2 separate regions of the Homo sapiens genome follow, and region 2 is linked to region 1. Evidence: fine-mapped expression QTL. Tissue or cell type: nucleus accumbens. Region 1 holds a variant in brackets; the other region holds the start of a gene. All regions are shown on one strand. Distances are from middle to middle.

Evidence for each region. PIP is the estimated chance that this variant, and not a neighbour inherited with it, causes the effect.
Region 2: IGFL2 starts here. The variant in region 1 is the best candidate, but not a certain one, in a credible set for the expression of IGFL2 in nucleus accumbens (GTEx, PIP 0.83).

What each region holds. Positions count from the first base shown.
Region 1 is chr19:47,020,434-47,028,540 of GRCh38, reverse strand. NPAS1 (neuronal PAS domain protein 1) reads right to left here. Exons shown (of 12, transcript NM_002517.4): 2 at 7,372-7,535; 3 at 6,694-6,929. The coding sequence starts at 7,493. Among named protein-coding and RNA genes, the nearest start is that of NPAS1, 4.6 kb to the right of the region's middle. The variant T/A (reference allele first, on the strand shown) is at 3,533.
Region 2 is chr19:46,144,677-46,152,783 of GRCh38, reverse strand. It overlaps IGFL2 (IGF like family member 2), which reads right to left and starts at 4,546. Exons shown (of 4, transcript NM_001135113.2): 1 at 4,487-4,546. The coding sequence starts at 4,505.

The sequences.
Region 1 (8,107 bases):
GCAGATGCTGCAGCACAGAGCCGGGACTGGTATTAATAGTGTGATTACTATTGTTATTACCCGACCATCAAAACACCAGGCGGCGAAACCCCGCCCCTCCCCCATGGGCGCGCAGCCCCCGCCTCCCCAGCCCCCTAGTGTCTGGGCTGAGCTTCCTCCTCCCAGGAGTACCCCACACCCTCCTGGCTGTTCCTCCCTGCCTCCACCTCCGCCTGGAGCTCCAGGAACAATTACTGGGGGGCTGGGGGGTTGACGGGGACCCCCTCCCTCAAGATACAGCTCGGAACCAGCCGGGTGACAGGCAGGAACAATGCTGCCTGCTAATTGTCGCAATTTTCCCCTGTCATTTTTGCTAATTCCTTCATTTTCCCTCTCCCAGGATCAGCCTGGGTCAGACTGAACCGCTGCAATTAACAACATTAATGGGCACGTCGGGATTAGGGGGTGTGGTGGTGGGGGGGCTTGGGGACCTGCTCTTCCCCATACACGGGTCCGGTCCCCTGTGAAAGGGACCCCCAGAGTCTCCTGATCACTGACTGATGTGTCTTTTTACCCCCAGCCTCCACCTCCCGATCCCACCAACTCCCCGATGCCTCCCGCTGTTTCCTCCTCTCCCTCTCCCCTCAAAATGTCCCCACTCCTCTGTCCCCCACATTCAGCAGGAGACTTTTCACCACTTCCACATCCGCCCTCCCATGTCCAGAACCCAAACATCACTCATCCATTTAACAAACACTTGCTGTGGTTCTTATCACAGCCTGCTCAGTGTCCTCATCTCTTGCGCAGAGAGGGAGCACGAGGAGCAGAGAGACGGGAGACCAGGGGCAGAGAGAAGGGGACCAGGGGCAGACAGACAGGAGACCAGGGGCAGAGAGAAGGGAGACCAGGGGCAGACAGACGGGAGACCAGGGGCAGAGAGACGGGAGACCAGGGGCAGAGAGACGGGAGACCAGGGGCAGAGAGAAGGGAGACCAGGGGCAGACAGACAGGAGACCAGGGGCAGAGAGAAGGGAGAACAGGGGCAGAGAGATGGGAGACCAGGGGCAGAGAGACGGGAGACCAGGGGCAGAGAGACGGGAGACCAGGGGCAGAGAGAAGGGAGACCAGGCGCAGAGAGAGGGGGACCCAGGGGGCAGAGAGAGGGGGAAACCGGGTGCAGAGTGTGGGGGGACCTGGGGCAGAGAGAGGGGGGACCTGGGGCAGAGAGAGGGGGATCCAGGGGCAGAAGGCAGAAGCCAAGGCCTCTTCCAAGTTCCCAGATCTCCCCCGTCACCTGCCCTTCTCAACTGCCCTGAAGGAATGTGCTGACCCTGGGTCCTGGAGAGAAGAGGCTGGGGCTTCATCACCCAGGGAAGTCGGGGAGAGGGGTCCCTCACATGCCCCATCGTCAAAGCGCCGCAGGCCTGAGGGCTGCATGGGGGCAAGCACCATGGGGTGGGGCAGTGCCGGGTCACCTTTGCCTTTACTTTCCTCAGCCTCATCTGTAAAATGGGTCTACAGTGATAGAGTTGAATGGGCTAGTGCATACAGTAGGTGCCTAATACTGGGAGTCATGCCACCATTCTCTCTCTCTCTTTTTTTTTTTTTTGAGACGGCATCTAGCACTGACACCCAGGCTAGAGTGCAGTGGCAGGATCTCAGCTCACCGCAACCTCTGCCTCCTGGTTCACGTGATTTTCCTGCCTCATCCTCCCAAGTAGCTGGGAGTACAGGCACCACCACCATGCCCGGCTAATTTTTGTATTTTTAGTTGAGACGGGGTTTCACCATATTGGTCAGGCTTGTCTTGAACTCCTGACCTCAGGTGATCCACCTGCCTCGGCCTCACAAAGTGCTGGGATTACAGGTGTGAGCCACCGCCCCGGCCGCACTTTTCTTTTCAGTATGACTACAGATAACATCAGGGCACCACTGCCTTTTCGGGCGGTTTCTTGGAGGCCGCCCTCTGTGTCTCTCACACCCACATGCATTTTAAGCAAGTCCCAGGGGTTGGACCTGACCATGTCACCTGTGTTCCACCACCCATGGCCCCAGCCCAGTCTAGCTGCCCTGGCTGGACCACCACGTCCTCATCCTCACTGGGCTCCTACTTCCGCCCTCACCACCTCTGTGGCTCCCCTCTCACTGTGGGTAACAGCCAAACCCCTACCACAGTGCATGAGGCTCTGCACCCAGCAAGCTGATCCCCACCTGCCTCAGGGCCTTTGCACCTGCTGTTCCCTCTGCTGAGTCACTCTCTTCCAGCTTTTCTCACAGCTGCTCCCACACCTCCTTGGAGCCTCAGCTCAAAGATCACTTCCTTGGCTGGGCCCAGTGGCTTACACCTGTAACCCCAGCACTTTGGGAGGCTGAGGTGGATGGATCACCTGAGGTCAGGAGTTCAAGACCAGCCTGGCCAACGTGGCGAAACCCTGTCTCTACTAAAAATACAAAAATTAGCTGGGCATGGTGGCGTGTGCTTGTAACCCAGCTACTTGGGAGGCTGAGGCAGGAGAATCGCTTGAACCTGGGAAGTGGAGGTTGCAGTGAGCTGAGATCGCACCACTGCACTCCAGCCTGGGTGACAGAGCAAGACTCTGTCTCAAAAAAAACAAAAAACAAAAACAAAAAAACGTTACTTCCTCAGCGAGGATGTGCCTGACCTATGAGCTAAGAAGTCACCCCTTGGCTGGGCACAGTGGCTCATACCTGTAATCCCAACACTTTGGGAGGCCAAGGTTGGCAAATCACTTGATCCCAGGAATGTGAGAGCAGCCTGGGCAACATGGTGAGACCTCGTCTCTTAAAAAATGCAAAAAGTAGCTAGGCGTGGTGGCGTGTGCCTGTAGTCCTGGCTACTTGGAAGGCTGAAGTGAGAGGAACTCTTGAGCCTAGTAGGTGGAGGCTGCAGTGAGCCAAGATCGCACCACTGCATTCCAGCCTGGGCGACAGAGCAAGACCCTGTTTCAAAAAAATTTAAAAAGGGCTGGGTGCGGTGGCTCACACCTGTAATCCCAGCACTTTGGGAGGCTGCGGCAGGCGGATCACCTGAGGTCAGGAGTTTGAGACCAGCCTGACCAACATGGAGAAACCCCATCTCTACTAAAAATACAAAATTAGCTGGGCGTGGTGGCGCATGCCTGTAATCCCAGCTATTAGGGAGGCTGAAGCAGGAGAATCGCTTGAACCCAGGAGAAGGAGGTTGCAGTGAGCCGAGATCATGCCATTGCACTCCAGCCTGGGCAACAAGAGCAAAACTCCGTCTATAAATAAATAAATAAAGATGTCACCCCTCCTTCCCTCAACTGCCACAGTCACTCAACAATTTAGTAAGCCTTCATTGTGTCCCAGATGCTACTCCAGGCTCAGCAACCAAGAGGCTGTTGGTGAATGACACAAAATAACAAGATAAATACAGAGAGTGTCAGATGACAATAAGTGCTATGGGAAGAAAGAAGGCTGTAAAAGCCGGGCACGGCGCCTCACGCCTGCAATCCCAGCACTTTGGGAGGATAAGGAGGTCAGGAGTTCGAGACCAGCCTGGCCAACATGG[T/A]GAAACCCCATCTCTACTAAAAATACAAAAAATTAGCCAGGCGCGGTGGCAGGCGCCTGTAATCCCAGCTACTCGGGAGGCTGAGTCAGGAGAATTGCTTGAACCCAGGAGGCGGAGATTGCAGTGAGCAGAGATTGCAACACTGCACTCCAGCCTGGGCAACAAGAGCAAAACTGCGTTTCAAAAAAAAAAAAAAAAAGCAATAGGGAATGCTGACATGAGATTTGGGCGGTCTCCTCTCCAGACTCAGAGGCTCAGGGCTAGACTTGAACATCTGTTGTCCCATTTCACAGATGGAGGACTGAGGCCCAGAGAGGCAGAGACCTAGAACCCATCCCTGTAGACCTACAGACCACATATGATGGTTGAGAGGCGGCCTTTGGGGCAAGGTCATCTGTGTTTGAATCCCAGCTGTGCGACCTTGGGCACACACTTCTGTAACTTGGGAATCATAATAGTGCCTCCCTCTGAAAAAGAAAGTCATTTTATCTTTTGTTGTTGTTGTTGTTTTTCCTTTTTCTGGAGAACGGGGTCTCGCTATATTGCCGAGGCAGGTCTCGAACTCCTGGGCTCAAGCTATCCTCCCGCCTCTTGCCTCCCTGAGAGCTGAGATTACAGGCGTGAGCCACCGCACCCGGCCAAGAAAGTCATTTTGTATACAGGGCTTATCCCAGGGTCTGATGCATGCATTCTATATGATTACTATTATTGTTATTATTTTAGATACTGAGTCTTGCTCTGTTGCCCAGGCTGGAGTGTAGTGGCATGATCATGGCTCACTGCAGCCTCGACCTCCTCAGCTCAAGCAGTCCTCCCACCTCATCCTGTTCAGTATCAGGGACTACAGGCGGGTGCCACCAAACCTGGCTAATTTATTTATTTATTTTTATTTTTATATATTTTTTGAGATGGAGTCTTGCTCTGTCACTAGTCTGGAGTGCAGTGGTGTGATCTCGGCTCACTGCAATCTCCGCCTCCTGGGTTCAAGTGATTCCCCTGCCTTAGCCTCCGGAGTAGCTGGGACTACAGGCACACACCACCACGCCCGGCTAATTTTTTGTATTTTAGTAGAGATGGGATTTTACCATGTTGGCCAGGATGGTCTCGAACTCCTGACCTCGTGATCTGCCCGCCTTGGCCTCCCAAAGTGCTGGGATTACAGGTGTGAGCCACCGTGCCCAGCCAATATTTTTATTTTTGTAGGGACATGGTTTTGTTATATTGCCCAGGGTTTTGCTATGTTGCCCTGGCTGGTCTCGAACTCCTGGCCCAAAGCTTTCCTCCCACCTTGGCGCCCCAAAGTGCTGGGATTACGGATGTGAGCCATGGTGCCCGGCTTATTACTGAGGAGGGCATGGGAGTCCCCTCCCCTTCAGAGAGTGTGACTGACAGTGCTCTGCTCTGTGGCTTCAGCTAAAATGCTGTCCTCAGCTCCTCCTCTGAACTATGGAAGCAGGTGCTTCGCCTCTTGTTAGGGACCCTGTAGAGCTAGAAATGCCTCTGTCCCCCGATTTCCCAGTTTTGGGACTATAGGAGTCCACGCAGTACCAAGCCCCCCCACACTGTCCTGACCCTACTTCCACTTGGCACCGTGGTCGAGGTGGGATCGATTAAGTCCATGCTCTGCCACGTCAGTGCTGTGACCTCAGCCAGCCCCTGATGCCTCTGAGCCCCGGAATGCTCATCCAGGTAATGGGGGGCTGGACGCCGCCGGGGCTCTCTTAGCCCCCCCTTTCCCCCCCTTCAGCTCGGGGACAATAGACAAGATGTTTATCCCCCGCCGGCGCACATGTTGTTCGCGGTAATGACAGTAATCAGCGGCGCTAATGCCGCATTCTCTCCGCGCCAGTCAATTCGCCTAATTACCGCCTGGGAAGCCGGATTATTTAAATTTAAATGGTGATTTATTGCGAGCTTAATCAATGCTATTTTCTCTCCCCCCTCTTCCCCTGGGACGGGGCAGGAGGGGAATTGGAGCCCCTCCAACCCCACCCTAAGGACACCCTCTTCTCCTGGAGGGGTGGGGACAGGGGTAGCCTGGGGTGCCCTGAGACTTCAGATAAACACCACTCACACTGCCTTATCCTCATCACCGCAAAGCTGTAACAAACACATAAAATAGAAGTAATAATAACATAACAGCACTTCTATGTCTCAATAATAAAGTCTGAGTAATAATAATAAACTTAGATATTTATCTGTATCTTACAGAGTTTATATTTTTACATATTCTAGATTATATTGCTTTGCCTATTTCTTTATTGCGTCTTGGCCACTAGGATGCCAGCCGCTCCGGGGCAGGGACTTTTGTCTAGATTGTTTCTCCTGCTCAATCCCAGCGCTCAGAAAAGTGCCAGACAGGCAGGAGATGCTCCAAAAGCGACAGCCCCCCCGCCCCCTCCTCCATGCCCCGAACCCCTCCAGCAGCCCTGCAAGGTTACTGCTGATAACAGCATTGGCCGCATAGCGGTGGCTTGCTCTGAGCTAGGCACTTCCAGGGACTTTGCAAATATGACCTGGTTGATTCTCTGCTCAGCCCCCTGGGGGAGGTTGGACCGTTTTTTCCCACTTCACATTAAGGCACAGAGAAGTGAGGCGACCTGCCCGGGGTTGCAAAGCTGGGAGGTGGCTGCGCGGCGACAGGAACCCTGGGGCATCTTCCTGAAGTTCCCCATCTCATCCGCCACATCATACTGTCTCCCTCTTGCTCCTCCAACTGGGGGCTCAGACTGTACAGTCCTTGCGTTCCCGCCGGGGCCCCTCAGGTCTGGATCCAGGGTATCTCGCCCATTAGCGAATGGGCGTCCCAAGCCAGGGTGAGTCCCCTCTGTCCCGCTCATGCAGCTGGGAGTTTCTTTGGTTGTAATAATGATTCCTCTCCTCTAATAAAAATATAGGAATAGCATTTACCAGTGACCACTAGAACTGCCAGGGCCTTGTTTAGGGCAGAATTCACGAAATCTTCCCAACCTCTTGCGCCCATTTGACAGTTTAATAAACTGAGGCTTGGAGAGCAGAAGCCACCTGATAGGGACACGCAAAGGTCCTGGCTGACTCCAGAGACAAGCATCTGGGCGAGGGCAGGCCCGCAGCCCGGATCTGGGCTGCAGTGACTCCGCCTGGAGGGCCCCGGGACCCTCGCCCCGCGCATGAGCACTCACCGAGGCCAGCTGGCGGCCCCGCGGCTCTCAGCCCCCAGGGCGGCGCCCCCAGCGCGGCGAACCGGCGCAGGCGGAGGTAGGTGACGCTGAGGCGCACGATGGAAGCCTTGTCCAGCTGGCTGGAGATGGCGCCGGGCAGCGGGAGAAGCTTGGCCAGCTCGAAGAACTCCAGGTTCTCCTTCCCGCGCCGCGAGCGCGCCGCGTTCCGGGACTTCTCCTTGCGCTGCGCCTGCAGGCTGGGCGGGCGGCGCGGAGGAGGTGTCGGCGGGGCCCCGGGGCTCAGGGGCTTGGGAACTGGGGGCGAGCCCCGCCTCCCGGGGCCTTGGGAACGGGACGGGACGTTGGGAGTGGATTCCACATCTCTGGAGGTGGGAGCAGACCGGAGTGTGGATTTTACACTCCGACCCAGGGACAGAACCTCGAGTGTCAATTCTGGTGGGAAGGAGGAGGAAGGGCGAGAGATTAAAGATGTTGGGCGTGAATTCTGAGGACCGGGACTAGAAGCAGAACGCAGGGGACCGGGCTCAGGACGGTAGTTAACTCAAGGTAAGACCTTCTAGCCCTAAGGGGCGGGTCAGGGAGCTGGGTGTGAACTGCCCCTTGGCACGGGGACAGAACATCGGGTGTGAATTGGACCCGGGGGGGGGCCCGCGGCCAGGGGGGCGGGGCTTTGCTCACCACGGTCCGGACGGCGCCTTGACCATCAGCCCGGGTAGAAAGTCCCAGGGGACGCTGGCGCCGCGGCCTCCCACGCATTTGACCTCGCTTCCGCCGCCACTGCCGGGATAGGGGGCCGCCATCTCCGGGGGGCTCGCTCAGGCGGGCTCCGAGCCCCGAGTCTCCTGCAGCGGGAGGGGGCCAGGGGCAACGCTTAGTGCCCTCGGGAGACCTTCTAGGGAAACTGAGATCCGTGCAGGGCTCAGGGTCCCAGCAAGGAGCTGGGGGGGGGGGGGCCTGGATGATGCCTCAGTTTCCCCTACCTGGAGGCCTCAGCTCCCACCCTAGCCGGCCCGGGGCTGGCGCTCCGGGTGAGGACGTGCCCCGCCGCCGCCTCCCCCGCGCCGCCCGCCAGCGCGCCCGCCTCACGCCCGCGCCGGGCCGGCTCCCGCATACCAATGGGCGCACGCGGCGCGCATACGGATCGAACCGGCCCGCGCGCTGCGTGCCAAGCATGCCCAAGCCGGGCGGGGGGCGGGCGCCTCCCGGGCCAGGCACGCACGCCCCAGCCCCCGGAGCCCTCTGCCCCGAGGACCCGCCCCCCAAGCCCATCCCCGGTGTCTGACTCCCCGGATCTGCACCCTGTTTTCCCGGCTGGGCTAAGGAGGCAGGGGGCAGAGGGCAGGGACCCCCATCCTGTGTCCTGCCCAGGGATCCCCCCAGCCTCTCGGGATGGCGCCACGTGTTCGGACCGCCA
Region 2 (8,107 bases), 880 kb after region 1:
ATTGTGAAAGATTGAATACTTTCCCCCTAATATCAGGGACAAGACAAGTATATCCACTCTTACCACTCTATTCAAGATAGCATTGGCGGTTCAAGCCATGAAAGTTAGGCAAGAAGATAAAATGAATTTAGACTGAGAAAGATAAAGTAAAATGATTTCTATTTGCAAATGACATGATTTTGTATGTTAAAAATCCTAAGGACTAGGCACAGTGGCTCACTCCTGTAATCCCAGCATTTTGGGAGACCAAGTGGGGAGGATCACTTGAGGTCAGAAGTTTGAAACCAGCTTGGTCAACATAGCGAGACCCCATCTGTATAAAAATAAAAACATAAAAAAATTAGCCAGGGATGGTGGCACATGCCTGTAGTTCTAGCTGCTCAGGAAGCTGAGGCAGGAGGATTACTTGAGCCCAGGAGTTCGAAGCTGCATTGAGCTATGATCACACCACTGCACGCCACCCTGCATGATAGAGTGAGATTCTGTCTCAAAAAAGAAAAAGAAAAAAAAAAAAAAACCTAAGGAAGCTACTATGACCTAAAGACTAATAGAAAAATTCAACAGGATTGTAAGATAAAAGAGATCAACATATAAAAAGCAATTGTATACACTAGTAAAAAACCATCTAAATATGAAATTAGGAATATAATTCCACGTACCAAAGAGAATAAAATACTTATGAATAAATTGAACAGAAGAGGTGCAAGATTTGTGCATTAAAAACAACAAAACATTGTTGAAAAGAATTAAGAATATGTAAATAAATGGAAATACATCCATGTTCGCAAATTGGAAGACTTAATATTGTTCAGGTGCCAAAAATCCCAAATTGATCTATAGAATCAATGCAATCCATATCAAAGAACTTTTGTGAGATCAAGTGTCACTCTGTCACCCAGGCTGGAGTGCAGTGGCGTGATCATGACTCACTGCAACCTCCGCCTCACAGGCTTAAGTGATCCTCCCACCTCAGCCTCCCAAGTAGCTGGGACTACAGACGCACACCGCATGCCTGGCTAATTTTTTGCATTTTTTGGTAGAGATGTGGTCTCACCATATGGCCCAGGCTGGTCTCTTAACGCCTGAGATCAAGCCATCCACCTTCCTTGGCCTCCAAAAGTGCTGGGATTACAGGCATGAGCCACAGGACCCAGCCTTCTCTGAAGAAATTAATCAGTTGATCCTAAAACTCATATTGAAACATAAAGGACCGAGAATAACTAAAACGATCTTGAAAAAGAACAAAATTGTAGAATTGATACTTCATGATTTCAAAGCTTACCACAAAGCTATAGTGACAGTGTAGGAGCTGACACACAGGATAGACATATAGATCAATGAATAAAACTAACAGTCAGAAAATAAACCCTTAGATTTGTTGAAATCAAATTTCAACAAAAGTGCTAGGACTATGAAGTAAGGGAACAAATGATTTTTCAACAAATGGTGCTGGGAAAACTGTATATTCATACACAAAAGAGTGGGCAGAAAGAGGATCTCTTCCTCATACCATACACAAGGATTAACTCAAAATGTATCACAGACCTAAATACAAGAGCGAACATATAAAACTCTTAGCAGAAATGTAAAATAAGCAACCCACAGAAAGACAAATACCACACCATCTCACTTGTATGTAGAATCTAAAAGAGTTGAACTCATAGAAGTAGAGAGAAGGGCAGTTACCAGAGGATTGGTGTGGGCAGATGGGCAACAGGGAGATAAGCAAATGATATGAAGTTACAGTTAGACAGGAAAGATAGGTTTTAGAGATCCACTGCAGGGCACGGTGACTATAATAAATAATAGTGTATTGTGGGCTGGACGTGATGGCTCATACCTGCAATCCCAGCACTTTGGGAGGCCAAGGAGGAGGGTTGCTTGAGCCTACAAGTTGGAGACCGGCCTGGGCAACACAGTGAGACATCGTCTCTATGAAAAACAAAATTAGCATGGTGTGGTGGTGCGTGCCTGTGGTCTCAGCTACTTGGGAGCTGAGGTGGAAGGATCACTTGAGCCTCAGAGGTAGAGGGTGCAGTGAGCTGTGATCACACCACTGCACTCCAGACTGGGCATCAGAGTGAGACCCTGCCTCTTAAAAAAACAAATGGTGTGTTGTATATTTCAAAATTGCTGAAGAGTATATTTTAAATGTTCTAGTGACAAAAAGTAATAAGTATATTAGGTGGTAGATATGGTAATTAATTTGATTTATCATTTAACAAGGCAAACATACATTAAATCATCATATTTTACCCCATAAATATACACAATTATTCTTTGTCAACTTCTTAAAAAGATTCCTAGCAGAAAACATACAAGTAAGTCTTAATGACCTCGAGTTAGGTAATATTTTCTTAGATATTACACCAAAAGCACAAGAGAGAAAAGAAAGAATAGACTTCATCAAAAATTAAAAACCTATGCACTGCAAGCAATAGCATCAAGGAAATGAACACAATCCACATAATGAGGAAAGTATTTGCAAATTATATATATGATAAGGGATGAGTATCCAGCATATCTTCTAAAACTCTTACAACTAAATAATAATAAAATAAATAACCCAATTTAAACATGGAAAAATCTGAATAAACCTTTTCTCAAAAAGGAATACAAATGGCCAATAAGCACATGGAAAAGACACTCAGCATTGTTATTTACCAAGGAAACGCAAATTAAAACTACACAGGATATCACACCCACCCACCCAGATGACTGTAATAAACAGGAAAATAGAAAATAACAAAGGTTGAAGAATCTGGAGAGAAATGTGAGCCCTCATACACTGCTGGTGGGAATGTAATTGATGCAGCTCTGTGGAAAACAGTTTGCCAATTCCTCAAAAAGTTAAACAGAATTACCATGTGGCGTAGCAATTCCACTCCTATGTGTACACCCAAGATAACTGAAAACAGGTTCTCAAGCAAATACATGTATACATATGTTTGTAACAGCACTATTCACAATAGCCAAATGGTGGAAACAGCCCAAGTGTCCATCAACAGATGAATGGATAAATGAATGCTGATACATGGATACAATTGAATTTATTCAGTTGTAAAAAGGAATGAAGTACTAATAAATTCTATAATGGGGATATGCCTTGAAAACATTAAGTTAAAAAAAAAGTTACACGAAAGGTCACTTATAAATGGTGTGATTCCATTTATATGAAATGTCCCAGATAGGTAAATCCATAGAGACAGAAAGCTGACTGGTGGTTGCCAAGGGTGAGGGTAGAGGGGAAAGAGAGGAACAGCTAAATGGGCATGCGGTGGTCGGGGGCTATGGAGCCAGGTGACTCGGAGGTAAAAAGCAATTCTGGAAGATGACTGAGCTACTCTTCCTTCAACTTGAGAGAGGAAGGAAGAGAAGGAAGGAGAGGAGGGAAAAGACAGGGAGGGGAGAGGGGAAGAGAAGAGAGGGGGATGTGAGACAGAGGGACACAGGGAGATGGGGAGGGGAGGGGGAGGGGGAGAGGGGAAGAGGGGGAGAGGTGGAAAGGGTGAGGGGTGAGTGGGAAAGAGAAAGAGAGAGAGAGAGAAAAGGGAGAGAGAGAAAAGAGAGGGAGAGAGAAAGAGAGGGAGAGAGAAAGAGAGAGAGAAGAGAGAGAGAGAGAAGAGAGAGAGGGAGAGAGAGAGATGGTTGCCCAAAAAGAAGTTAGTGAACACAGCAGGCATTGCTCATCTTGATGGAATACACACAACAAAACTCAGTCCACTGCCTGGGCTGCCCTTACTTACCCAGCACACTCCTGGGGTAGTCGGTCCTCATGCCTGAGACACTGAACCTCATGATTTCCTGGCGCTGAGAGCCCAGGAACTCCAGGCAATAGTGCCTGGGCTACAGGGCTGGGTCTGGTTCGAGGGCAGGATGATCCCCTCATCACAGTCCCAACAGATTGCAGATCTAGTCTCCACTCCTGAGTGTCAACTGGCACAACCACAGTCCAATATCTGGAAGAGTCAGAGCTGATGAGCTGGCAGGGGACCTCTGGGAGCCCCCAACCCTATCCACAGTGCTATAATCCTCCCTCCTTTCTTCTCCCTCCACTCACCACACCCATTCTCACCTATGGTCCCTTCTGAGTCTGAGCCCAGGAGTTCAAAAATAAAGATCAGCTGAGAGAAGAATGACAGTGATTCTGGGGTCACCAGATCATGATCATGGGGCACAAGATGATGTCTCTGAGTTTCTTTGGTTGCTGTAACAGCTCAGAGCAGATTTTGGGACTGACTCTGTGTGCAGGTTCTGGGCATTGGGCTTGGCAGGTGAGGAAATGCAGGGAGGGCTCTGGAAAGGGTTAAGCTTCTGGAATTTGCAGGTGGGGAAGAGAGATTGCAATGCAGTCAGAGAGGACACGGGTGATTATGAGGTGGGAAACCAAGAATTAAATAGGGAAGAGAGAATTAAGTTTGAGGTTCAGAGGTACATTAGGGATAACAGTAGGCATTAGCTCAACCTGGGGCAAGGGTTACCTTACCGAAGATTCTGGGCACCATGGAGCTTCAGAGCAGCTGATGGGACAGCAGCAGTGCAAATGGGTCAGTGACTTTATACAGGGACTTATGTAGGCTATGAACTTATCCACATTTAGGGAGGTGCCCAGAAGCACTGGCCTCTTGGAAAGGGTGGGGCATGAGAAGCCACAGAAAGCATAAGAAAAAACTGCATCAACAGCTTAGTAAGATGTTCCTGGACCTGTTCCAAGTGACTGCTACCTTCTCAGACCTCTCGAAATCTCAGAGTAAAGGCTTCCCTAGAACCTTTCAAAGCCGTGAGTGAGTGTCATTCTTTGAACTCTGCCCACGGCAAAGAGACTTGAAAGAGATTCCTTGGCTCTCACTTATCTGAGAGCATACTACTCACCAAACATCACAGCTGGTGATGAAACTTCATATTCATCCACCCTGAAGTTTCAAGGGGTCCCTCTACTCCCCATCTCAGTCCGGCTCCAGACCTGCACTATGAGAAACAAACGCACCCGTCCAAACCCAAAGAATGGACTCAGAGACACAGAAAACAGTGGAAGCAAGACTTTTAATGATGGTCTTGCAAGATTGAATGTCTGGTAGGCAGGCACACCCAGTACGGTTACAACAAGCTATTTATCCCCTAGTGCACAAGTCTCTCCCCTGGTTCCTCGTAGGCTAAGTACGATGGGGTCACGATCTTCCCAGACGTCGCCTATTGGTTGCTGGGTTGAGGCTTTTAGGTGTTTTCTTTAGGATTGTCTCACTGCATTTTGTTGCAGCCTATAATACATTGCAATCAAAGCCAGCTCGAGGGCTTTTCAAGTATTTGACTTATGACCTAGGCAGTCAGGCAAGCTGATAAGAATAGATAAAGTGAGCTATTTTGCTGGCTAGTAAACTTTCATTCTAGACTAAACTCTGGTTTGGGAGAGGGTAACTAAGGGGACCCCGACAAGCATGCACCAGCTATGGGCCTAGTATATTCTGTCCTTCCATAGTTTGTGGGCCTCAGCCTATCTGAGGTACTTTGTCTTGGAAATGGACCACCATATCCATTATTATAATTGTAGACAGCACTGTCTATAATTCTTCAGAGTCATTTAGGGGAAACTGTGAAGATGCAGCATAATCTAGAAAAAGAGCAGGGGCTGTAAAAACCCTGCCAGGGAGAACAGAAAAGGAACAGACAGTGATAAAATAGACATCTGGGATTCATAGAATAGATGGAAAGGCAGCCCCTTTTTGTTGTTGTTTCTGGAGTGCTTTGTCCAAGGAAACGCTCCTTCTGTGTTTCTTACTGTTATTTTATTGTCACCATCACTATTATTTGTGTCACTGGATACCATGTGGGCTATTATTAGAATGCGCTCCTGTGTTTTCCATTGACTTCCTTCCCATCCCACAGTGAGATAGGTGGGAGGGTGAGACAGAGATCAGGAGAGGTGTTAGGGCTTTATAAAAGTGCATTGTTAGTAGAAGAGTTCTGGACCTGATAAGTGAATTTAGAAAGGTTGTAGCGTATGAAACACACAGAAGTCAATTGTATTCCTTTATACTGGCAAGAACTAGTGGATACAATAATTTAAAGAAAAAAAATGCCATTTACAATACCCCCCTCCCCAAAAACTGAACTGGTATACTGTAAATCTAGGAGAACATATAAAGGATGTGTACGATTAAAGTATTCAAGGAAACCTTAAATACAGAGTGGTATATCATGTCGTGGTTTGGAATCTGTAATTTAGGTAAGATGCCAATTCTTTCCAAATTATCTACAGATTTAACACAATTCCAATCAAACCCAAGCAGGATTTGTCTGAGAGAGAAACAAAATAACTCTAGAATTTATATAGAAAAGCAATGGAAACTAGAATGGCCAACACAATTTTGGATGAGGAAAGATGGTAGAGGACTCACACTATCCAATTTCACAATTACTCAAGCTACAGTAATGACAACAGTGTAGTATTGGCAAATGGATAGACATGGATAGACACATAGATCAAAGGAACAGAATAGGTTCCAGAAATAAACCCAAACAAATATAGTAAATTGTCTTTTGGCAAAGATGTAAAGGCAATTCAATGGGGGAAAAGATAGTCATTTCAACAAATGGTGTGAGACAATGGGCATGCATATGAAAAAAAAAAAGAAGACTTCTACCAAAGCTCACACTCTATACAAAAGTTAACTCCAAATGGTCTAGATATGAAAAGTAAAACTACGTATTTCAAGGAGAAGGCATCAGAGAAAACATTTATATCTGGGAAAAGACATCAAAAGCATTATCCATTTTTTAAAAACAGATTGGACTTATCAAAATTTTAAAGTTAAACTTGATGAACAAATTGTTAAGTGAAGCAACAGACAGGCTACCAACTGCAGAAAGTGTCTGTGAATCACATCTCTAACATAGGACTTGAATCCAGAGTATATGAAAAACTCTCAAAACTCAAAGTGAAACAACAAACAAAATCATTAAGCATCGGCAAAATATCTGAACAGATGCTTTACAAAAGAGGACATACAGATAGCAAATAAGCACATGAAAAGTTGTTCAACACCATTAGCCATACTGGAACTACAAATTAAAACCAGTGAGATACTATCTCCCATCTACTAGAATTGGCAAAATTTAAATATATATATTAAATAAATAAATAAATAAATACACACACACACACACACACACACACACACACACATATATATGAGTGTGTCCTTAATTCTCTACCAGTGAGGGAAGCTGGAAGCAAGATGGGAAGGTGGAGAGAAGAAACCCTGAAAGGAACTAAGAGTTACTGGAAGGAGGGCTTTAATCTGGTGAGTGGGTCACTCACTGGTAGGTAAGTCACGTGTGGAAACCTGTTTGGGGTGTTGCAAGGATTGACTGTGTTGGACTGGACGAGGGAGGGCCACTGGGGGTGTAAGTGAAAAAGTGCCGGAGTATGTGTATTTAGATATTATGAAATTATACACAAACATATATGAAAGAGAGAGAGAGAGAATATCGACAATACCAAGTGCTAACAAGCAAGTAAAGACACTGAATTTCTCATATTTTACTGATGGAAATGAAAATGGTATATATATATAACCCCGAAAAACATTTTGGCTGTTTTTATAAAATTATACATTTACCATACAACCCATCATTCACACTCCTGTGTATTTATCCCAGAGAAATGAAACTTATGTTCCCACCAAAAAAGCACAATCGTTCATAGTATTTTACTTGTAATAGCAAAAAAGTGGAAACAACTCAAATATCTATCAACAGGGGAAATGGGAGACACACCGTGGTACACACACACAATGGAAACTTTTGAGCAATAAAAAGACAAGGAACTATTTACATACACCATGACTTGGCAAGATCTCAAAGGCACCGTGTCAGATACAAGAAGTTGGTCTCAACAATTACATAGGTAAGAATCAACTTAGCCTTTCCTGTGACACTCAGGAAAGGCAAAACTATAGGAAAGAGTGAATGCCAGGGGTTGGGGTTGGGTTTGGGGTGATGGAACTGTTCTGTAACCTGATTTTGATCGTGACTACATGAATCTATACCTGTGTTTAAATCCATTAAGTTGTGCATAGAAAACAGTCAACTTACTGTATGTTTTTAA